4 linked regions of the Homo sapiens genome follow. The protein of the gene in region 1 purifies or fractionates together with the protein of each later gene. This does not show direct contact. Each region holds a gene or a part of one and is shown in the gene's direction. Other genes may lie near its edges.

The links.
Region 2: the proteins of EFNB2 (region 1) and PKN3 purify together in Homo sapiens (affinity purification with mass spectrometry; 3 studies listed by BioGRID and IntAct, with this or other methods). This does not show direct contact.
Region 3: the proteins of EFNB2 (region 1) and PI4K2B purify together in Homo sapiens (affinity purification with mass spectrometry; 3 studies listed by BioGRID and IntAct, with this or other methods). This does not show direct contact.
Region 4: the proteins of EFNB2 (region 1) and PHLPP1 purify together in Homo sapiens (affinity purification with mass spectrometry; 3 studies listed by BioGRID and IntAct, with this or other methods). This does not show direct contact.

What each region holds. Positions count from the first base shown.
Region 1 is NC_000013.11:106,490,627-106,497,662, reverse strand, and holds part of EFNB2 (ephrin-B2 isoform 1 precursor), read left to right. Parts: intron 1-1,822; coding exon 1,823-1,915; intron 1,916-2,668; coding exon 2,669-2,782; intron 2,783-4,234; coding exon 4,235-4,623; 3' UTR 4,624-7,036. UniProt on the Homo sapiens protein: Cell surface transmembrane ligand for Eph receptors, a family of receptor tyrosine kinases which are crucial for migration, repulsion and adhesion during neuronal, vascular and epithelial development.
Region 2 is NC_000009.12:128,712,503-128,719,538, forward strand, and holds part of PKN3 (serine/threonine-protein kinase N3), read left to right. Parts: intron 1-549; coding exon 550-696; intron 697-775; coding exon 776-885; intron 886-996; coding exon 997-1,140; intron 1,141-1,543; coding exon 1,544-1,619; intron 1,620-1,694; coding exon 1,695-1,863; intron 1,864-2,059; coding exon 2,060-2,162; intron 2,163-2,295; coding exon 2,296-2,363; intron 2,364-2,669; coding exon 2,670-2,733; intron 2,734-2,866; coding exon 2,867-2,958; intron 2,959-4,244; coding exon 4,245-4,421; intron 4,422-5,822; coding exon 5,823-5,885; intron 5,886-6,046; coding exon 6,047-6,123; intron 6,124-7,036.
Region 3 is NC_000004.12:25,230,167-25,237,056, forward strand, and holds the start of PI4K2B (phosphatidylinositol 4-kinase type 2-beta), read left to right. Parts: upstream 1-3,866; 5' UTR 3,867-3,997; coding exon 3,998-4,265; intron 4,266-4,397; exon of another isoform or gene 4,398-4,576; intron 4,577-6,890. UniProt on the Homo sapiens protein: Together with PI4K2A and the type III PI4Ks (PIK4CA and PIK4CB) it contributes to the overall PI4-kinase activity of the cell. This contribution may be especially significant in plasma membrane, endosomal and Golgi compartments.
Region 4 is NC_000018.10:62,977,520-62,980,948, forward strand, and holds the end of PHLPP1 (PH domain leucine-rich repeat-containing protein phosphatase 1), read left to right. Parts: intron 1-742; coding exon 743-1,912; 3' UTR 1,913-2,914; downstream 2,915-3,429. UniProt on the Homo sapiens protein: Protein phosphatase involved in regulation of Akt and PKC signaling.

The sequences.
Region 1 (7,036 bases):
CCTAATGTAAATGACGAGTTAACAGGCGCAGCCCACCAACATGGCACACGTATACATATGTAACAAACCTGCACGTTGTGCACATGTACCCTAGAACTTAAAGTATAATAAAAAAAAATTTTAATAGCCCCATTAAATAATTAAAAAGATTTTTTTTAGATTCACAGAAGTGTACAAAATTTTTAGGTTTTTTTTTTTTTAAGCTGTCTGCTGAATAGTTTCTTAATGGTCTACAATGTTTGTATCTACAAACAGATACTGTCTGCTTCTTACTACCCTTCCAAGACAAGTATTATTATGGCAATTATTGCCCAGTTTCCCGGGAAAAATTTATCCACAGTTACAGAAGAATGAGATGCAATTGTGAGACTGTAAAGTTTAAGCAAGCACTCAGAGAAGCACAGTGATATGTATGCACAGAAGAGGCAGTCTTTGTTTTGAGGAAAACAGTGAAAGTAAAGTTAATTCAAGACCACAAAGACAAGTAAATAAGTGCCTTATTTTTGTAGTTAATATAATTTCAGTGGAATGCATATTTCTACCATAAATGCATATAGAACTTGTTTGCTGACCTACTGTTTGGAAAACAAACAATCCCATTAGAAGAATGTCTTTGGGATTTATTTTTACCAGAAAATCAATCCTTTTTTCAGTCCCTTGCAAAGTACAGTGTTACAAGCCAAGACTTTGATAATCAGGTAGAAAATGGATTTAAATTGCAGAAATGTATATGAAACACTTTTGTTCCTTGCCCCTTGAACTTTAGGGGAATGAAAATGTCTAGCACTCTCCACCTTCTTTTCTCTCCTGGAACTTGAACTGTAATTCAAAGCCTGTTTCTCATTAAAGTACCTGGCAGCCTATCTCTTTACAGCTTGAGTTACAAAGCTATTCAGAGACCTCGCTGGTCTAAAGAGACAGAACAAGGATGTGTTTAAATAGAGCATAGGCTGTTGAAAAAAAAAATGCTGAAAATGGTAAAATGATTCTGTCCTTCCTTCCACTCCTCACTGCTGAGGTGGAGAGGGAATTCAGTTGGTGAACACCAGCAAGTGGCTGGTAAAAGTCCCCACTTTCTCTCCAGGGCTGCCACAGGACCCAGAATGAGTGGTGGGCATGTGTGTGAACCCTCTATTCAGCCAGAGTTTTCCCGCAACAGGTAGTTTGGTTGAAGAGGTTGACTAAGGTTGACATTGGCAGTAATAACACGTATGTTCTTCTGATTTACAAAACGATGGAGGAAAAAGGGGAGATTTTGAAGACCTGATTTCTGGTATACTTCTTAAGCATGCATAAGGCTGAAAAAAGAAGACAAGGGTTGTGGGAGGCTCCTGGTCTAGTGTTTACAGAACTTGGATGCTTGACAAACAGAGCGTCAAGCTAATTGTTCTTGAAGCAGGAAATCTGCAGTGGAGGAAGCAGGTGTGGGGGGATGATTACCACGTTTGGAAATGGCTGCATTAACTATTTTGCTCTTCTGAGTTTGGCCCCAAAAGAGTCCATAGACTTTTTGAAGGATGCCATCCCTTTTATTTATAGACTAACATTAAATCAGTCATTTGTGAAGGAAGGAGAAAGTGCCTAAATAAATTTGGAGTCAGATAGCATACGTGCGGCAGTGTTTCCGATATCCATTTCTCTTTATTTCTTTTTCTTTTTCTTTTTGGCTTTCAGCATCCCCATACTTTCAGAAAACTTGTGACTAAGAGTGAATTCTTATTTTTCAAATTGTTTTCAGACATTTCATGTTCATGTAAACTTGGCTTATTGATTTCCTGATTTTTCTTTATTTTTTTGTTTTGTCCATTTTATTTTTAATCAGCTACATCAAATGGGTCTTTGGAGGGCCTGGATAACCAGGAGGGAGGGGTGTGCCAGACAAGAGCCATGAAGATCCTCATGAAAGTTGGACAAGGTAAAGACCATCTGCTGCTTCATGACGCCACTGTGACCTGGTGTAGCCCCCAGCTAGTATGGTGCTAATGTTGCCGATGCCCACCTTCATTCGCTCTTCTTTTTAGTTTTCAAAGCAAACCCTTCTGCACTTTGAGCCACTGACAGATTTCCTCAAGTCAATGTACTAAGCTTTTATTGGAGATCTAAGAGTTAAGATCAGCAAGGTAGAATGTCTATTGCCATAGATAGATAGATAGATAGATAGATAATAGATAGATAGATAGATAGATAGATATTTCTTTTTAAAAAGCAAAACACTTTGGTTCAAAATCAAAATATCCAGAATGAAAACTAAAAGCTTGTGCAGTTTTGCTCATTTCTGAATCTTGACTACAGAAGAGTTTTGTTCATTGTGACTTTTCCAATATAGATAACCTATTGTGCAGAAAGAAATAATTATTCTTCTAATTAAAAATTGGTATAGTAGTCAATCAACTTGCTCAGTTAAATTGAAATGTCATCTGCAATGCTTTGCCTGCCAAATGCAAGAATCCCTATAGTTTCCACAGATGGCCTCACGTTCTAAACCTCTGAAATAACTAGTATAACCATTTTGTTTTAAAAGAAAAATTATATTCTTGTATTTCACAGTACTTTGCATAAAGACTCTTATGTTCATTGCTATTCATGCCTGTTGAAATATATATGCAGCTCCTAAAGCTAGATATTGTCAGATGTCTGTGCCGTAATTAATCATTTGTTTTTCATATAGATGCAAGTTCTGCTGGATCAACCAGGAATAAAGATCCAACAAGACGTCCAGAACTAGAAGCTGGTACAAATGGAAGAAGTTCGACAACAAGTCCCTTTGTAAAACCAAATCCAGGTATAACAGCATGATCTGTGTGTATGGAGGTCTGTGGGTACCACATTCTTAGTAGTATCTTAAAAGGTAGGGCAGAGTCTAAAGACTTCTAACCAGTTAGGATTAGCTGGAAGTTACAGTGATCAGGAATCTTTGCTGTCAGTGAGTCATTATTAATTACACTCAATAAGAACAAAATAACTCATTCCAATGAAAGTCATATATTCAAAGGAGTAGAGTTCATGAGCTGTAAGTGCCAGTTATTAGAACTACTCTGTCAGGCCAAAGGTTTCATTGGCTGACATTTTATCAAGCTGGTTGTCAACTCCAGCTTAAAGCTGATGTTAATGTATATGTAATTAATGTGCTAATCCCTCATCTAATTATATCTAAGCCACAGAGGGTTTAATTGATCCTCTTCTAAATTTTAAATGGTAACATTTTTAAATATTGCATAATAGTATTTTTTCAGGTGGTTATCGTTATTTTGTTTCACATTTTCCATGTAAAAGAAAATATTAAACAGGTCCCTGACAAAAGTGTAGAATACCAGATAAAATTGTCCGTCGTTGACCTTCGTTTTCTTAACAGTCTTGGAACAAATAGTTCTGTATTTGTTACCATGCTAATGAAGGTTTTATAGAGTAGCTGTTGAGCAGACATCAGCAGTTTTGTATTAGGATTGTTGTGTGCTTGCTTGGTCGTTGTGCAAATTTATCGTCTGCAGCAATATTCCATCCCTTTCCAAGAGTCAAGGAGGGAAGTTGTTATTTCTAACTTTCAATGACAAGATGTGTCAAATTCTTGTGACAAACTGATAAATGGATAATATAATGATGCCAGGCAGTTTTTTAGTGCTTAACATTTGGGCTGGCAGTCTGTTCGGTGTGAGAGTTTCTGCTGCCTTCCAAATATATTTTAAGTGTAAATCAAATAATACAGACGAGTTACGAGCTGAACATTTTCCCAGGCCCCCTCACTCCTTCCGCGTTCCCGAGCTGTTCTGTTCTGCCAGGAGGCAGGGCTCTTCTTTAGAAGGCAGGCCCTTTGAAGGTTTGCATGAAACTCCCTTTCTCAAAGGAGGCGGAAGAGCAATACCACATAAACGCTCACCGCTGACCTGGAGAATTGGCCACTTCCCTTTTTCTTCCCTGCCGCTGCCCCAGGCTGGCTGACACGGGTTAGAAGATGAAGCAAGATCAAGGGCTGGCTGTCACCGACAGTCTGTGCTCTTGCTGGATAATGATACAAAGGAAACCCTGTGGCTTGGGAGGGTAGGGAAGTCCCTCCTAGAGATACCTCTCATTTCCTTTTGCGTTGAGCTCTTAGACGAGGTATTGGCGAGGCAAAGTCCAGCTTCTAGTTAGTAATAAGCCTGGCTTATTTTTCACATTTTTAAGGGTCATAAAAGCAGTCCGTCTGCACTGGGACAGCAGTAACTATCTCTGACCTTTTCTGTCTCCGCGTCTGCAGGTTCTAGCACAGACGGCAACAGCGCCGGACATTCGGGGAACAACATCCTCGGTTCCGAAGTGGCCTTATTTGCAGGGATTGCTTCAGGATGCATCATCTTCATCGTCATCATCATCACGCTGGTGGTCCTCTTGCTGAAGTACCGGAGGAGACACAGGAAGCACTCGCCGCAGCACACGACCACGCTGTCGCTCAGCACACTGGCCACACCCAAGCGCAGCGGCAACAACAACGGCTCAGAGCCCAGTGACATTATCATCCCGCTAAGGACTGCGGACAGCGTCTTCTGCCCTCACTACGAGAAGGTCAGCGGGGACTACGGGCACCCGGTGTACATCGTCCAGGAGATGCCCCCGCAGAGCCCGGCGAACATTTACTACAAGGTCTGAGAGGGACCCTGGTGGTACCTGTGCTTTCCCAGAGGACACCTAATGTCCCGATGCCTCCCTTGAGGGTTTGAGAGCCCGCGTGCTGGAGAATTGACTGAAGCACAGCACCGGGGGAGAGGGACACTCCTCCTCGGAAGAGCCCGTCGCGCTGGACAGCTTACCTAGTCTTGTAGCATTCGGCCTTGGTGAACACACACGCTCCCTGGAAGCTGGAAGACTGTGCAGAAGACGCCCATTCGGACTGCTGTGCCGCGTCCCACGTCTCCTCCTCGAAGCCATGTGCTGCGGTCACTCAGGCCTCTGCAGAAGCCAAGGGAAGACAGTGGTTTGTGGACGAGAGGGCTGTGAGCATCCTGGCAGGTGCCCCAGGATGCCACGCCTGGAAGGGCCGGCTTCTGCCTGGGGTGCATTTCCCCCGCAGTGCATACCGGACTTGTCACACGGACCTCGGGCTAGTTAAGGTGTGCAAAGATCTCTAGAGTTTAGTCCTTACTGTCTCACTCGTTCTGTTACCCAGGGCTCTGCAGCACCTCACCTGAGACCTCCACTCCACATCTGCATCACTCATGGAACACTCATGTCTGGAGTCCCCTCCTCCAGCCGCTGGCAACAACAGCTTCAGTCCATGGGTAATCCGTTCATAGAAATTGTGTTTGCTAACAAGGTGCCCTTTAGCCAGATGCTAGGCTGTCTGCGAAGAAGGCTAGGAGTTCATAGAAGGGAGTGGGGCTGGGGAAAGGGCTGGCTGCAATTGCAGCTCACTGCTGCTGCCTCTGAAACAGAAAGTTGGAAAGGAAAAAAGAAAAAAGCAATTAGGTAGCACAGCACTTTGGTTTTGCTGAGATCGAAGAGGCCAGTAGGAGACACGACAGCACACACAGTGGATTCCAGTGCATGGGGAGGCACTCGCTGTTATCAAATAGCGATGTGCAGGAAGAAAAGCCCCTCTTCATTCCGGGGAACAAAGACGGGTATTGTTGGGAAAGGAACAGGCTTGGAGGGAAGGGAGAAAGTAGGCCGCTGATGATATATTCGGGCAGGACTGTTGTGGTACTGGCAATAAGATACACAGCTCCGAGCTGTAGGAGAGTCGGTCTGCTTTGGATGATTTTTTAAGCAGACTCAGCTGCTATACTTATCACATTTTATTAAACACAGGGAAAGCATTTAGGAGAATAGCAGAGAGCCAAATCTGACCTAAAAGTTGAAAAGCCAAAGGTCAAACAGGCTGTAATTCCATCATCATCGTTGTTATTAAAGAATCCTTATCTATAAAAGGTAGGTCAGATCCCCCTCCCCCCAGGTTCCTCCTTCCCCTCCCGATTGAGCCTTACGACACTTTGGTTTATGCGGTGCTGTCCGGGTGCCAGGGCTGCAGGGTCGGTACTGATGGAGGCTGCAGCGCCCGGTGCTCTGTGTCAAGGTGAAGCACATACGGCAGACCTCTTAGAGTCCTTAAGACGGAAGTAAATTATGATGTCCAGGGGGAGAAGGAAGATAGGACGTATTTATAATAGGTATATAGAACACAAGGGATATAAAATGAAAGATTTTTACTAATATATATTTTAAGGTTGCACACAGTACACACCAGAAGATGTGAAATTCATTTGTGGCAATTAAGTGGTCCCAATGCTCAGCGCTTAAAAAAACAAATTGGACAGCTACTTCTGGGAAAAACAACATCATTCCAAAAAGAACAATAATGAGAGCAAATGCAAAAATAACCAAGTCCTCCGAAGGCATCTCACGGAACCGTAGACTAGGAAGTACGAGCCCCACAGAGCAGGAAGCCGATGTGACTGCATCATATATTTAACAATGACAAGATGTTCCGGCGTTTATTTCTGCGTTGGGTTTTCCCTTGCCTTATGGGCTGAAGTGTTCTCTAGAATCCAGCAGGTCACACTGGGGGCTTCAGGTGACGATTTAGCTGTGGCTCCCTCCTCCTGTCCTCCCCCGCACCCCCTCCCTTCTGGGAAACAAGAAGAGTAAACAGGAAACCTACTTTTTATGTGCTATGCAAAATAGACATCTTTAACATAGTCCTGTTACTATGGTAACACTTTGCTTTCTGAATTGGAAGGGAAAAAAAATGTAGCGACAGCATTTTAAGGTTCTCAGACCTCCAGTGAGTACCTGCAAAAATGAGTTGTCACAGAAATTATGATCCTCTATTTCCTGAACCTGGAAATGATGTTGGTCCAAAGTGCGTGTGTGTATGTGTGAGTGGGTGCGTGGTATACATGTGTACATATATGTATAATATATATCTACAATATATATTATATATATCTATATCATATTTCTGTGGAGGGTTGCCATGGTAACCAGCCACAGTACATATGTAATTCTTTCCATCACCCCAACCTCTCCTTTCTGTGCATTCATGCAAGAGTTTCTTGTAAGCCAT
Region 2 (7,036 bases), on another chromosome or scaffold:
GGAGCAGGTGGGTCCGGACAGGAAGCCAGGCTTCCTGCTCCCTGTCCCAAGCTCTTATCCTTGCCACAGTGCTCTCTAGGCCCCACTTCTAGGCAGCATCTCGTCATGTGCTGTGGCTCTGTGCAGCCTGGCTAAGGTCTGAGGTCTGAGCCTATGTCCCTGCCGCTCCAGCATGTGGAGGGGAGAGCCAGTTGCTCTGCCCTGGAAAGAGGTGGCTGCCACAGAGAAGTGTGCATTCTGGGACAACGTGGCTCCTCACCTGGGAGTGTCCAGGTCGGAGGCCTCCTAGGGTGTCATCGGGGTCCAAGGGTACCCTTTGGGGGGCTCATGGTGCTTGGGAGCTGCAGGACAGTCAGCAGGCTCCAGTCTAGGCACTCTAGGCCGCCACACTGAGTGAGGTTCCTCAGGTAACTGCCCTGGCCTCAGGTGGGTACGGTCTGGGTTCAGCCACCTCCTGGAGAGGGTGGCCTTCCTGGGGTCCCAGGACACCTTGGTGGTAGCAGTGGGAAGATGGCATCTGACAACGCCCCCCGCTCACTCTCCCCACAGGGACACTGCAGGTCCGCCTCCTGGGCTGTGAACAGTTGCTGACAGCCGTGCCTGGGCGCTCCCCAGCGGCCGCACTGGCCAGCAGCCCCTCCGAGGGCTGGCTTCGGACCAAGGCCAAGCACCAGCGTGGCCGAGGCGAGCTTGCCAGTGAGTAGGGAAGGAGCTTCAGGGGGAGCAGGAGACCCCTGCTTCAGGCCTGCCCTGAGTCCCGGCTCTGGCCCTGCAGGCGAGGTGCTGGCTGTGCTAAAGGTGGACAACCGTGTTGTGGGGCAGACGGGCTGGGGGCAGGTGGCCGAACAGTCCTGGGACCAGACCTTTGTCATCCCACTGGAGCGAGTAAGGCTGGCCTTTGTGTGGTCAGGGGTGACCTTGGGCTGCGGGGTGGAAGGCTGCCCAGGTCGGGGCTCGTTCTGCACCCCACCCTTCAGCCTGGCCTCCCCAATACAGGCCCGTGAGCTGGAGATTGGGGTACACTGGCGGGACTGGCGGCAGCTATGTGGCGTGGCCTTCCTGAGACTTGAGGACTTCCTGGACAATGCCTGTCACCAACTGTCCCTCAGCCTGGTACCGCAGGGACTGCTTTTTGCCCAGGTGCTCACCACCTCCGCCCTCTGACTTGGTGGGACCCTGGGGCGTCAGGGCCAGGAAGGCCTTCAAGACCGATGCACTGCGTGTAGGTGCAGAGACTGACGACCAGAGAGGAGGGCTCCAGGAATAAGGGCTCCTAGCCGCTCTCTCAGGGCTGCATCTGGAGGCCTGGGTCCTTGTCCTGACTGCCCTGCCTCAGGTGTGACCCTGGAAAAGTGCCTCTCCTCCCTGGGCCTCTGTTTCTCCACTAGTATCAATGAGGACATTGAATCTGTTTCTCTGGGTCTTTCTGGCTCTTGCATCTGTTGACCCTGGGGGCTTGGGCTGTAATCCCAGGGGCAGAGGAGGTGCCATGGCAGATGAGATGGGAGGCGACTGGTCCACAACCCTGCCCCTACCCCTGCAGGTGACCTTCTGCGATCCTGTCATTGAGAGGCGGCCCCGGCTGCAGAGGCAGGAACGCATCTTCTCTAAACGCAGAGGTGTGGAGGGAATGGGGGCTATGTGTGAGGGAGCAGGGCTGGGGTCCCGGGACTAAGCTCCCCCTTTTCTCCCAGGCCAGGACTTCCTGAGGGCTTCGCAGATGAACCTCGGCATGGCGGCCTGGGGGCGCCTCGTCATGAACCTGCTGCCCCCCTGCAGCTCCCCGAGCACAATCAGCCCCCCTAAAGGATGCCCTCGGACCCCAACAACACTGCGAGAGGCCTCTGACCCTGCCACTCCCAGGTGAGGAGCTCCCTTGCCCTAGACTGCATGCTCCTCTGTGGCGGCTTCCTGACTCCAGATCCAGGCGGTATCTGTCTGTCTGTCTGCATTGCTCAGCCCGCTAACCCTCTGTCCATCTCACTTTGGGTTGGTGTGTCCATCCTGCCAGCTCTTGCGTCTGCCTGTGCTGGGCACTGTGTCTACTTTCTCCCTACAGTAATTTCCTGCCCAAGAAGACCCCCTTGGGTGAAGAGATGACACCCCCACCCAAGCCCCCACGCCTCTACCTCCCCCAGGAGCCAACATCCGAGGAGACTCCGGTGAGGGGCTGGAGGGACTAGTGGCTCCTAGGGCCGGCTGGGGCTGGCAGGGCCACCCAGCTGTGGGGTGGCAGGCCTGAAGGGAAAGAGAGAAGGAAGCCCAGCCCTGCCCTGAGCTCCTCTATACTCACAGCGCACCAAACGTCCCCATATGGAGCCTAGGACTCGACGTGGGCCATCTCCACCAGCCTCCCCCACCAGGTACCCCATCCTGCGCACCTTCATGTTTGAGACGTTCGTCTGCTTGCTTGAACATTTGTGTATCCATTCATACATTACTCCCTGGCTCCCTGGCGGGTGCGCTGACTGGCTCTCGGGGTCTGATTTACTAAACCCACATTATTGAGCTCCAGCTCTATGCCGGCTTCTAGGAGTCCTTACTGCAGGGCTTTTTCGAGCCCATAGGTCGGGACAGCCCAGGACTGGGCATGGGAGGCTTGGAGTGGCTCTGGGTAGGGGCCCAGCCAGTGCCCTAGGGGACTTCATATACCCTCTCTTCCTTTGCAGGAAACCCCCTCGGCTTCAGGACTTCCGCTGCTTAGCTGTGCTGGGCCGGGGACACTTTGGGAAGGTAGTGGGCTGAAGAGGGTGGTATGGGACGGGATTGGGGGCCTCATCACATGAGCCGGGAGGACCTGATCTGTGGGGGCGGTAAAGGCTCCCTGGTCTGGCCCACCTGGAGCACAACCTCTCTCTGGCCCCAGGTCCTCCTGGTCCAGTTCAAGGGGACAGGGAAATACTACGCCATCAAAGCACTGAAGAAGCAGGAGGTGCTCAGCCGGGACGAGATAGAGAGGTGTGTGGGGGTGCCGCAGGGCACCCAGGATGGCTGGCCTGGGCTGTGGCATCCAGAGGGCAGTTGAAGGTTCCTGGGGCTTTGGAGAGGTGACCCCGTGGGGCCAGCCAGCCTGCATTCTCTTTTGGCACCTGCAGTTGTTAACTGTGTTTCCTTGGGCAGGTCCCCTCTTCTCTCTGTCAGTTTGCTCTACTGTAAAATGGGGGCATTGGTGGCTGTGCACGTTCAGAGCTCCTTGTGAGCCCCTGACATATAGAAACCATCACTCTATGGCCAGGCGTGGTAACTCATGCATGTAACCCCAGCACTTTGGGAGGCCAAGGCAGGCGGATCACTTGAGTCCAGGAGTTCAAGACCAATCTGAATCACATGGTGAAACCCCATCTATAAAAAATAGCCAGACATGGTGGCATGTGCCTTTAGTCCCAGCTACTTGGGAGGGTGAGGTGAGAGGATTGCTTAAGCCCAGGAGGTAGAGGTTATAGTTAGCAGAGATCTCCAGCCTGGGCAACAGAATGAGACCTCATCTAAAAAAACTAATTAAAAAAAAAAAAAGGAGGGGGAGGCTGGGCACAGTGGCTCATGCCTGTAATCCCAGCACTTCAGGAGGCCAAGGTGGGAGGATTGCTTGAGCCCAGGAGTTCGAGGCCAGCCTGGACAACATGGTGAAACCCGCCTCTACAAAAAATACAAAAATTAGCTGGGCGTGGTGGTGCACACCCAGCTACTCGTGAAGCTGTGGTGGGAGGATCACTTGAACCTCAGTGGCGGAGGCTGCAGTGAGCCGAGATCGCACCACATCACTCCAGCCTGGGCAAGAAAGTGAGACCCTGTCTCAAAAAAAAAAAAAAAAAAGGCTGGGCGCACTGGCTCACACTTGTAATCCCAGCATTCTGGAAGGCCGAAGCAGGTGGATAACTTGAGGCCAAGAGTTCGAGACCAGCCTGGGCAACACAGCGAAACCCTGCGTCTACTAAAAATACAAAAATTAGCTGGGCGTGGTGGCGCACTCCTATAATCCCAGCTACTCGGGAGGCTGAGGCACAAAAATCTCTTGAACCCGGGAGGCAGAGGTTGCAATGAGCTGAGATCACACCACAGCACTCCAGCCCAGGCGACAGAGCAAGACTGTGTCTCAAAAAAAAAAAAAAAATGAAAAGAAACCATCAGTCTACTTGCCTGGCACTTTGGCTGAGGGCCCAGTGAGCCAGGGGTGTTGTGCAGGGCACAGGGCACAGCCCAGGGAAAGTTTTCCTTCCCTCTAATACTCTTGCTCTCTCCTGTAGCCTGTACTGCGAGAAGCGGATCCTGGAGGCTGTGGGCTGCACAGGGCACCCTTTCCTGCTCTCCCTCCTTGCCTGCTTCCAGACCTCCAGCCATGCCTGCTTTGTGACTGAGTTTGTGCCTGGTGGTGACCTCATGATGCAGATCCACGAGGATGTCTTCCCCGAGCCCCAGGCCCGGTGGGTTCCATCCCTCCTGCCTGCCTCTTCCAGCAAACTTTGCCTGGTTCCCTACACCCACTCTCTACATACTGCTTTCTCCAAGTGCCCAACAGCAGGGGAGCAGGAGTCAGAGGCCTTGGTTTACATCCTGGCACCAACTGACAGCATTTGTGATCCTGGGTATCAGCTTATGAAGCTGTGCATTAGGTTTCTTTTTTTTTTTTTTTTTTTTTTTTTTGTGAGACAGAGTCTGGCTCTTATTGCCCAGGCTGGAGTGCAATGGCATGATCTCGGCTCACCACAACCTCCGCCTCCCTGGTTCAAGCCATTCTCCTGCCTCAGCCTCCTGAGTAGCTGGGATTACAGGCATGCACCACCACTCCTGTCTAATTTTGTATTTTTAGTAGAGACGAGGTTTCTCCATGTTGGTCAGGTTGGTCTCTAACTCCTGACCTCAAGTGATCCGCCCACCTCGGCCTTCCAAAGTGCTGAGATTACAGGCGTGAGCCACCACACCTGGTGAGTCTCAGATCTTTATTTGAAAAATAGGCATGATTGGCCGGGCACCTGTAATCCCAGCACTTTGGAGGCTGAGGCGGGTGGATCACCTGAGGTCAGGAGTTCGTGACCTGGCCAACATGGTAAAATCTTGTCTCTACTAAAAATACAAAAATTAGCTAGGCATGGTGGCACACGCCTGTAATCCTAGCTACTTGAGAGGCTAAGGCAGGAGAATCGCTTGAACCCAGGAGGCGGAGGTTGGAGTGAGCCGAGATCCCGCCACTTCGGTCTGGCGACAGAGTGAGACTCCATCTAAAAAAAAAAAAAAAAAGGCCGGGCACGTTGGTTCATGCCTGTAATCCCCACACTTTGGGAGGCTGAGGCGTGTGGATCATGAGGTCAAGAGATCAAGACCATCCTGGCCAACATGGTGAAACCCTATCTCTATAAAAACTAAAAAAAAAAAAAAAAAAAAAAAATTAGCTGGGCGTGGTGGCGCGTGCCTGTAGTCTCAGCTACTTGGGAGGCTGAGGCAGGAGAATTGCTTGAACCCAGGAGGTGGAGGTTGCAGTGAGCCGAGATCGCACCGCTGCACTGCAGCCTGGGTGACAGAGTGAGACTCCGTCTCAAAAAAAAAAAAAATAGGCATGATGAATATCCACTGCAGGGACCAACACTTGGTCCCTGGCACCATTTAAGGGCCCATGAAGGGTGAGCTGGAAATGCACGCAACCTTGGGGCGACCTTGGGACTATTGGAGCACCCCCACCCTCAGCATGATGCTTGTCCCAGTCTCACTCATCTCTGACTCTGGCCGGGACATCCGGGATCCCCCCGCTATGGCCATCCTGGTGCCTCCCTGCCCTGCCTCCCTGGTGTGTGTCTTGGGCCTGAGTTCTCCCATAACCACCCCTGCAGCTTCTACGTGGCTTGTGTTGTCCTGGGGCTGCAGTTCTTACACGAGAAGAAGATCATTTACAGGTGACTTTTGTCCCAGGGATGCACGGGGGTAGGGGTGGGGGTGGGGGTGGAGTGGGTAAGGACAGATGCTGCCTCCGCCTGCCTGGGCTGCTCCAGGGGCCGTTACTGTTCCCTGGGTCTAAGCCCCACTCAGTCCCTTTGATCTGCACCCTTGCCCTCAGGGACCTGAAGTTGGATAACCTTCTGCTGGATGCCCAGGGATTCCTGAAGATCGCAGACTTTGGACTCTGCAAGGAAGGTGGGGGCCGCCCATTGGGATCCATATCTCCAGCCTTGTTTACCCACCCTGGCCAATAGGATGATGGGCACATGGCATGTCCCAGGAAATCTCCTCACCTGCGGATGCCCTGGTTCCACCACCCCAGACCTCATTCCAGGGGACAGCTGGGCACACTGGCCCTTTCTTCCTAGTCCTAGAGGCTCGTAGCCCCAGCCTGCACCTGGCCCAAGGGAGAGCCTGTGGTCAGGGATGGGAGAGGAGACTGAGTTCTGCCTTCTGTTTTTTTTTTGGTTTGTTTTTTTTTTTGAGACGGAGTCTTGCTGTGCCGCCCAGGATGCAATGCAGTGGTGCAGTCTCGGCTCACTGCAGCCTCCACCTACTGGGTTCAAGCGATTCTCTTGCCTCAGCAGCCCAAGTAGCTGGGACTACAAGCGAGCACCACCACACCTGGCTAATTTTTGTATTTTTTTAGTAGAGACGGGGTTTCACTGTGTTAGCGAGGATGGTCTCGATCTCCTGACCTCATGATCCACCCACCTTGGCCGCCCAAAGTGCTGGGATTACAGGCGTGAGCCACTGCGCCCGGCTTCTTTTTTTTTTGAGATGGAGTCTTGCCCTGTTGCCCAGGCTGGAGTGCAATGGCGCAATCTCGGCTCACTGCAACCTCTGCCTCCAAGGTTCAAGAGATTCTCCTGCCTCAGCCTCCCGAGTACCTGCGATTACAGGCACATGCCACCACACCCAGCTTATTTTTTGTATTTTTAGTAGAGACGGGGTTTCACCATGTTGGCCAGGCTGGTCTCGAACTCCTGACCTCATGATCTGCCCACCTCGGCCTCCCAAAGTGCTGGGATTACAGGTGTGAGCCACCGCACCCAGCCGAGTTCTGCCTTCTGTGACCTTAGCCTGTGAGCTTGGCTCTGCATGCAGT
Region 3 (6,890 bases), on another chromosome or scaffold:
TGCCACGGAAAGGTCATACTCTGCCGTTTTGTCTCTTAATGCATTTGCCTGGGAAGTTGCATCTCCCTGGCATCTGCATTCAATTAACACTTTAGTGCAATAGGTGTGGACCATCAGGAAATGGCGTCTCCCTGACCCTAGGTGCCAATGTATGACTTTTAGAGAGGCAATGTGATAACTGCTGAGCCATCACCCAACATTCCTGGTGGGTGGGAGAAGAGCCCTTTCCTGCCCTGCTCATGCTGTCTAATGGCCTGTGACAGCATGACTTTAGTAGGCTTTGGGAAATCAAGAGTTTTGAAGATTATTGGTAAAATAAAGACATTTGGTTGAAATTAGGTCAGACATTAGGTTTGCTAAATGCTTTAAGGTAATAAACTGCTTCTAAAAAAAAAAAGAATGACATTTCTCCAAATTTTGTGGAAAACATAAATCTACAGATTCAAGAAGTAAAGCAAAACCTAAGCAAGATATTTGTAAAGAAAATCATACCAAAAACATCATGGTCAAACTATTGAAAATCAAAGAACCAAAGAACCAGAGAAAATCTTAAAGGCAGCTAGAGAAAATGACATAGCACAAGTCGGGTGTGTAAGTGAAGGGTTATGATTCAAAAACAATGAAGGCAAGAGGACAATAGAATGACATATTTACAGTTGAACTTAGATGGGTAAGGATAGCAATATCAACCCAGAAGTCTGTATCCAGAGGACATAGCATTTGAAAATGATGGTAAAATAAAGACAATTTCTAATAAATTAAAACTTAAATTTATCACCAGTGTATTAGTCTGTTTTCATGCTGCAGATGAGGACATACCTGAGACTGGGCAATTTACAAAAGAAAGAGGTTTACTGGACTTACAATTTCACATGGCTGGGGAGGCCTTGCAATTATGGGGGAAGGCAAAGAGGAGAAAGTCACATCTAACGTGGATGGGAGCGGGCAAGGAGAGCTTGGGCAGGGAAACTCCTGTTTTTCAAACCATCAGATCTCATGAGACTCACTTACCATCATGAAAACAGTATTGGAAAGATCTGCCCCCATGACTCAATCACCTCCCACCTCCCACCTCCCACAACACGTGGGAATTGAAGATGAGATTTGGTGGAGACACAGCCAAGCCATATTAATCAGCAAATCTGCATTATAAAATTTGTTTTTAATTCTTCAGAGGAAAGGGAAATGATACTAGATAGAAACTCTGATCTACAAAAAGGAAGGAAGAACACCGGAAGTTGTAACTATGTGGGTAATTTCTCTAAAAAAGCAATTAAGGCAAAAATTATTCACTGTATTTAAATATTTAGGTCTAGTATACATGACAGCAATAACATAAACGATGGGGCATAAATGGAATGACACTAAGTTCTTACCTCTTATGTCAAATAGTACAATATTGGCTCTTAGTACACTGAGATAATTTAAGGATGAGTATTGAAAACCCTAGTGTAAGCACTAAAAATTAATGTAAAGAAGTATAACAGAGGCCAGGCGTGGTGGCTCATGCCTGTAATCCTAGCACTTTGGGAGGCTCAGGTGGGTGGATCACAAGGTCAGGAGATCAAGAACATCTTGGCCAACATGGTGAAACCTCGTCTCTACTAAAAATACAAAAATTAGCTGGGCATGGTGGCATGTGCCTGTAGTCCCAGTTACTCAGAAGGCTGAGGCAGGAGAATAGCTTGAACCCAGGAGACAGAGGTTGCAGTGAGCCAAGATTGCACCACTGCACTCCTACCTGGGCAGCAAGAGTGAAACTCCATCTCAAAAAAAGAAAAAAAATAAGTATAACAGAAAGTCAATGGTGGAATGAAAATGAAATAATCAGAATTATTGAATTAATCCAAACGAAGGCAGGAAAGGAGGAACAGAGGAACCGAAAAGGTTAAAGCAAATAAAACCCAAATTGCAAAATAATAGATCTAAATCCAACCACATCATTATTACATTAAATGTAAATGGACCCCAAACTCCAATTAAAAGGCATTTACAGGCCAGGTGCAGTACCTCACACCTGTAATCCCAGCACTTTGGGAGGCCGAGGCGGGTGGATCATCTGAGGTCAGGAGTTCGAGACCAGCCTGGCCAATGTGGTGAAACCCTATCTCTACTAAAAAATACAAAAATTAGCCGTGCATGGTGGCAGGCACCTGTAATTACAGCTATTCTTTCTTTAAAGCGGAGAAGGCATCAGGGAAGAGGGTTGTAGGTGGTGAAGCAAATGGTTACATTTTTGCTAGACTTTAGGTAGTGCCCAGTAACTCTATGCTATGCATAAGATAAGGTGAATATTCAAAGAAAATGGAGTAAAGGAAGTTAATTATACAGATATCTCAGGTGAAGGAATGATTGATCTTATCCTTGTTCTGCATCTGGGAAGATAAGCTTGTAACTGAATTTATCCATGTGAAATTTAACAGACTTTAGTTGTACCAGTTTGATTTAGGTTGCAGACTTAAAGTTATACAATTGACACGTCCTTGTTTTATGGAAGGATATACATCTTGAAAGGTTTAAGGGCCAGTAAAGAATTTACTATGATTAATTTGTTGAGGACAGTCATCCTGAGACTGAGATGCATAAGGCTTTTTTTTGCATTTTGAGGAGGGTCTGGCTAACATATAAAGTTTTAATACAACTATGGGAAGTAACAGCTATCCATTTGGGAAAAGCATTGTAGTGTTGAGTGACTTCAGTCTCCAGGCTTAACTCTCCCTTTGACATAACAAGTTGGGGGTGGGGGGTGGTTCTGAGATTTTTATTTTCCTTTACAGGGTCAAAGAGGAAATCATAAAGGAAATTAAAAACTATTTTCAGCTGAAGGAAAACAAAAGCACAGTAGCAGGCCAGGCAAGGTGGCTTATGCTTGTAATCCCAGAATTTTGGGATGCTGAAGCAGGACGACTGCTTGAGACCAGGAGCTCAAGACCAATCTGGGCAACAGTGAGATCCCATCTCTACAAAAAATTTAAATTTAAAAATTAACAGGATGTGGTCGTGCACACCTGCAGTTCCAGCTACTGTGTCTTCTACAGTTTAAAGCTGAGAAGATCCCTTGAGCTTAGGAGGTTGAGACTGCAGTGAGCTATGATTGTGTCACTGCACTCCAGCCTGGATAACAAAGTGAGACCCTGTCTCAAAAATAACAACCACCAAGAAAAAAAAAAAGGAGAATTCAGCTAAAGCAGTGCTTAGAGGGCAATTTATAGCCTTAAAATACTAGCATTGGAAAAGCAGAAAGATCCAGAATCAATCATCTTCTACTCTAAGCAACTAGAAAAAGAAGAGGAAATCAAAACTCAAGTGAGCAATAAAGAGCAAAATAAGGCAATGGACCAGAAAACAGAAAATCAATGGAACCAAAACATGACATTTTGAAAAGATTTAAAAATTGATAAACTTCTAGCTAGATTAGTCAGAAAAAGAAAACATACAAACTGCCACTATCAAGAATATCTGAACAAAGACAAGGTCCCTGCCCTCCTGGACGTCTACTGGAGGAAAGAAATGTCATACAATTAAATCTATAGTTACAGATTATGGTAAACTCTGAGAGAGAATTCTGTCAGGGAGAAGCCGCTTTTGGTTGCAGGAGGGCACCTCTTTGAAAATTACTCACCTTCCCGCCCTCCACTGGGAGTAAAGCGAGCTGTGCCCAGCTTCTCCCCGCGCTCACGGAAGCAGGTGGCGGCCCCACCCCACCTGACCCCTCAAAAGCCCCGCCCCCTGTTCACTCCCACGTGCCCCGCTGCCGCCGCCGCCGCCGCCACGACCCTTCTGCGCAGGCGCGGGGGTGGTGCCTGGCGGAGGCGCGAGGTGGGGCGCGGCCGGCGGCGAGGCGGGACAACCGCTGGGCGGGCGCCAAGCGTGCCCGTGCGCTGGTGAGGTGGCGTCCGTTCTACCCGGTCGCTCCCGTTCCGCGCCATGCAGAGCCCAGTCTCTGGCACCTGGCTGCTCTGATCTGGTCTCAGCGCGGAGGGAGCAGAGGGAGTCCATGGAGGATCCCTCCGAGCCCGACCGGTTGGCGTCCGCGGACGGCGGGAGCCCGGAGGAGGAGGAGGATGGGGAGCGGGAGCCGCTGCTACCGCGGATCGCCTGGGCCCACCCGCGGAGAGGCGCCCCAGGCAGCGCCGTGAGGCTGCTGGACGCTGCCGGGGAGGAGGGCGAGGCCGGCGACGAGGAGCTGCCCCTCCCGCCCGGGGACGTGGGGGTCTCCCGGAGTTCGTCCGCCGAGCTGGACCGGAGCCGCCCCGCGGTTTCAGGTGCGACCCGGCCCTGCCCCACTCCCCGCGCCCCTCCGGGCGGCTGCCCCTGTCGCCCGGCTCGGTCCTGTCTCCCGCGCGCGCTGGCCGAGGTGGACGGGCTTTCCCCGCTCGCTGGGCAGCAGCTCCCGAGCTCGGACCGGCGCCAGCCGCAGCCGCACCGCGGGCACCTAGCTTGCTCGCTCTTTCTCCGGGAGCTCCCTCTCCTAAGGCCAGTGGTTGTCATTAAACCGATTCTTTAGACCTCCCCGCAAAGTGAGTCAAAACTTCTAGAAACCGACACTGGGGAGAGGTTAACGCTGTAAAATGACGTAAGTCCTTGCTCAAGTTTGGACTTGACTTTTGAATTAAGAACCTTGAACTCTCAGGAAAGTTCCCGGAGTGGTGAATTTGCAAAGTGGATGACAGGAGAGAGATGGACAGCCAGAATATCCAGTTGCCACTGGGGCACGTTTCAAAACCTTTTTCTATTAAATGTTGTTATTATGAAGTTAGCCACAGGGGGCAAAAGCAGTTGAAAGTCTGTTCCTGCCCTCTTACAGTTTAGTTTCTCTTTCTTGATTTACTTCTAATACATAAGAAAACCAAAACGAAAAACCTCTTTTCGCTATTAAGCGGACTGATAACCTCAGGCGAAACAGGGCAGTTGAAATGATGTTGAAGGTTAAATTTAGGTATGCTGTGCAGGCCTGGATATTTATTAATAAAGTGAGTTTTTCTGGCGTGTTGAATGGAGTTAGACAAATGTGATGGAAATAGCAAGAGACTTGTAAGACTCTCAGCTAGAGGTGAGACAGACTTGTTTGTAAAAAGGCGATGGTACACCTCCCTGCTGGTTGTGAGGATGGATTAAATGAGATGTTGTGCACCCGGTTGGTTTATCGCTTCACACATGACAACTTAAAAACCACAGAAAATGGAAGTTTCTTTAACACTGCTTAGTTTTTTTTGGAATTGTTAGATTTTAAATGTACTGTTAGTGGTACACTAATGTGTCCTTTACAGTTTAAAGAATTTTGGATAGAATCGGTCACTCAAGTTCTAGCTAGAGGCTACATTCAGGCATATTCTAGAGTAAATAAATCAGAGAATCCCAAGGGGAGCAGTTTGTCTGATTGTTTAAGCTTTAACCAACGTCTGCTCCCGTTATAATGTTACCTGATGGATGCATTGACGTTTAACCAAACAACGTGAAGCTGAAACCAGATCACAAACGGGTCTGCATTTGCCTAGCTACATTGGCAATTTGGGTATATGTTACTTAGAATTTAGTCTGTAAAATAGCTAGCTTGCCTTTTTCTGTCCCTTACCTTGTGTAAGCTACCTTGTGTACCTGGGTTTTTAAAAGAGCCTAAAGCCTTCAAAATGCACTTGTTCTGTGAAAGTGAGGTGTTTTATAAACAAACAGTATTAAGGCTAGAAAAAAATCAAAGCGAGAGGTCAACGAGATGGCAGGCCTGTAATCCCATCCCAGCATTTTGGGAGGTCTAGGCAGGAGAATAGCTTGAGGCTGGAAGTTCGAGACCCACCTGGGCAACATAGCGAGATCCCCATCTCTATAAAAAATAAACAACAACAACAACAAAAATTCAAAGTGAGGATAGAGTATAGTGTTAGAATACAAATGGATTCTTAGAATTCCTACCTTTTTTAAAGGTAATATCTTACCTGTATCACAGTTTACAATTTGCTAAGATCTTTTTTAAAAAAATATTTTATTCTCCACTGCACTCCAGCCTGGTTCTGTCTTGAGACAGAGCAAGACTCTGTCTCAAAAATAAATAAATAAATAAATAAATAAATAAATAAATAAATAAATAAATAAATTTTATTCTCTGTTGGGTGCCATGGCTCATGCCTGTAATCCCAGCATTTTGGAAGGCCTAGGTGGGTGGATCATTTGAGGTCAGGAGTTTTCAGACCAGCCTGGCCAACATGGTGAAACCCTGCCTCTACTAAAAATAGAAAAATTAGCCAGGCATGGTGGCGGGCGCCTGCAATTCCAGCTACTTGGGAGGCTGAGGCAGGAGAATCGCTTCTGAACCCGAGAGGTGTAGGTTGCAGTGAGCAGAGATGGCTCCACTGCACTCCAGCCTGGGTGACAGAGTGAGACTTTGTCTCAAAAAAAAAATTAATTATTTTCACAACAGCACAGCAAGTTAGTTGTTATTCGCCATTATTCTCATTATGAGGATTCAGAATTAATAAACTGGTAATGACTGGTAGCTCAGGTCTTCAGAGGTAAATGGTTTGCCCGAAGTCAAATATCCAGGAAGTAATAAATCAGGAGGAAGCCTGGTTCTTTCTTCATCTTCTGCCCCTTTTCCGTTTTGCCATGGGTCCACAAGTGTTATAAAATAATTGTGTCTGTGGTTATTTTGGAGGTTTTTACCTTTAATAGGACTTTAAAATAGTTTCTGTGAAAACTGTTTAAAAAATTTTTAAAGACTAAAATGTTCATGATTGAGTAATTTAATACTTTTTAAGTTTAGTTATTTTTTAAATGACTCCATTAACTTCATTTGTCCTTTACCATCCGATTTCCATGAAACTACCTCACTAGTTCCAAGAAATTCTTGCCTTTAGATTAATATGAACATCATTTATGATGCTTAACTCTTACTT
Region 4 (3,429 bases), on another chromosome or scaffold:
TGAACTAAAGCCAGCAGATCTTGCCTTCTCCATTGGTCAACAGGAAATCAAGTTCAAGGAAGTTGTAAGAATTGGCATTTCTTCTTTAGCATCTGTTCTCCTGACATGAGCATTCTTACCCACCTAGTCAAACCAAGGTTTTCTCCACCGCTTAAGTACTTTCAAGTCCTCTCTGGACCTTTAGACACTACTGCCTCTTGTGATCATGGAGAGCAATGGAAGATTTAGGAGCATTGTCTTGATATATGCCTGCGTCATGTGTCTTTGCTCAGGACTGGCTTCTATCAGAAAGTCTCTTGCTACCTCAGAGTCTTCCTACACCCAGCCCGTCTGAGGGCCGATCCTTGATCACCATGTTCACCAAGGGAGGGAAGATGTAAACCCATGTTTACAGGAGGAGCTAGCCAGCTATGCTTGCTGTGTAAGGCTAGATGATGGCTTGCTTTAGATAAACAGCAGGACTTGTGACCTAGTGTGAATGGGGTCCCAGTAACACACATAACCGAAATCTTTTCCTTTTGTCCCTACTGCTCCTTACCTGCCCAGGCCTACTACCTGGGGTTTCTGATGACAGGTGCACATTAACTACTCACTACAGAGTGAGCCCTTCTTTCCTCTGTGGGCCACACAGCACTTCTCTGTGGTCCTACAGTCGAGACAGTCGAGGGACCCGCAGGGAACCTGCACAGTTGCCGCAGGTGCTCTGTATTAACTGTCTGTCTGCAAACCCTTGTTCTTCCAGGATGGCAAGGTGAACGGAGTGACTGAGTCCACGCGCATCCTGGGCTACACCTTCCTCCATCCCAGTGTGGTGCCTCGCCCCCACGTGCAGTCCGTGCTCCTGACTCCCCAGGATGAGTTCTTCATCCTAGGCAGTAAGGGGTTGTGGGACAGCCTGTCCGTCGAGGAGGCCGTGGAAGCCGTGCGCAACGTGCCCGATGCCCTGGCTGCTGCCAAGAAGCTGTGTACCCTGGCCCAGAGCTACGGCTGCCACGACAGCATCAGCGCTGTGGTGGTGCAGCTCAGTGTCACTGAGGACAGCTTCTGCTGCTGCGAGCTCAGCGCCGGTGGGGCTGTGCCACCACCCAGTCCTGGCATCTTTCCTCCCTCAGTGAACATGGTGATCAAGGATCGGCCCTCAGATGGGCTGGGCGTGCCGTCCTCCAGCAGCGGCATGGCTTCCGAGATTAGCAGTGAGCTCTCCACTTCTGAGATGAGCAGCGAGGTGGGGTCAACAGCCTCCGATGAGCCCCCGCCCGGAGCCCTAAGCGAGAACAGCCCTGCCTACCCCAGTGAGCAGCGCTGCATGCTCCACCCCATCTGTCTGTCCAACTCCTTCCAGCGCCAGCTATCCAGCGCCACGTTCTCTAGCGCCTTCTCCGACAACGGCCTTGACAGTGACGATGAGGAGCCCATCGAGGGCGTCTTCACCAACGGCAGCCGGGTGGAGGTGGAGGTGGACATCCACTGCAGCCGGGCCAAGGAGAAGGAGAAACAGCAGCACCTGCTTCAGGTGCCAGCAGAGGCCAGTGATGAGGGCATTGTCATCAGCGCCAACGAGGATGAGCCAGGTCTGCCCAGGAAGGCAGACTTCTCTGCCGTTGGGACCATTGGGCGCCGGAGGGCCAATGGCTCTGTTGCGCCCCAGGAAAGGAGCCACAATGTGATAGAGGTGGCTACAGACGCACCTCTTCGAAAGCCTGGAGGCTATTTTGCTGCCCCGGCTCAGCCGGATCCTGATGATCAGTTTATCATACCCCCGGAGCTGGAAGAGGAGGTCAAAGAAATCATGAAGCATCACCAGGAGCAACAGCAGCAGCAGCAGCCGCCACCACCCCCTCAGCTCCAGCCGCAGCTGCCGCGGCACTACCAGCTGGACCAGCTGCCAGATTATTACGACACGCCACTATGACCCAGCCGAGCTGTTTAACAAATAAACTAACCACAAAAGACTGAGTTGCAAGAGTCTCCCAGGCTCACATTAAACCAGGGGTTTTACTCCACATCCTTCCCCCAGACACTGTTCCCAACCTGTCATCGCAGCTAATCTGTAGGTTCTCTTTCTTTGGGTTATTTTTTTAAGTAATCACCACTTTCTTCTAGTGATGCTTTACCAATATGATTTACATTTGTTAACTTCTCCCCCTAACATATCAGATATGTAAAGACAAAGAACAAAAGGTTTAATATATTACAGAGAAACAGTTAATGATAATGTAATATTTTTTAAAATGGCTTTTTGTTGTTTGTTTGGAAGGCAGGGCAGGCTGCCGTTGCTAAATGATTTAATAATATTGTAATTCTGTATTTCTTTGGGGGGAAAAGGCTTTTGTTTTGTTTTGTTTTGTTTTGTTTTGTTTTTGTCTTGAAAATAATAGACATTTGTAGAATATGGAGACTAACTCCTAGGAGTTGCTTTACTCTGTCAGGTGACTTAAGTCACTGGGATTCACTAATTTTCTCTGAGAGAACAGCTGATTGAGAATTTCCATTGTAAATAGCTCAGTGTTGTATAGTGAGGCTTACGATGTTTTGTAGTCTTGGCGTAAGGACACAGCCCAAGTAACTGACGTTTCCCCTCCCCCTCCCCTCTGAGGAGCCTGCCTGCCTCACAACTCACCCTCACTTCACTGAATGAGGAGGCTGAGCAGCTGCAGTGTTTCTGTCCGGAGGAAATGGATCTTAGGCCACTGGACAAGAACCTGCACCCAAGGGCCCTGAACCCATTTTCCTCCCCTGTCCCAGCCTTCCCACTTTGACAGACACTTTTAACTGTGTTCCTTACTGCTGCCACAATCAGCATGGTTGTATAGTGCCCCATTAGGCCATTTACATACCCAGAGTTATACTCAAGCAGAATGCACAAATGGACATGTCATAATTTTTGTTACAATAAATATGAAATTTACAAGTATTTACAAGTATCTGCTTTTGTCTCAGCAGCCAGATGTTTCTTGGAGACAGTCACACTAGCTTGCGTTTAGAAAGAATGGATGGAATATTGGGGTTATCAGATATTTCTGATTTTTTTTTTAAGAGAAAAACATCCAGTAAGTTAACCTACATTGAATGAAATGTGAAATTAACCAAATGGTAAGCAGTATAATTAGCTGATCTTACAGCTTTTCTTTTCTTTTCTTTTCTTTTTTTTTTTTTTTTGAAATGGAGTCTCGCTCTGTCTCCCAGGCTGGAGTGCAGTGGTGTGTTCTCTGCCCACTGCAACCTCCGCCTCCCGGGTTCAAGTGATTCTCCTGCCTCAGCCTCTGAATAGCTGGCATTACAGGCACCCGCCACCATGCCCAGCCAATTTTTGTATTTTTAGTAAAGATGGGGTTTCACCATGTTGGCCAGGCTGGTCTCATACTCCTAACCTCAAGTGATCTGCCCACCTCAGCCTCCCAAAGTGCTAGGATTACAGGTGTGAGCCAC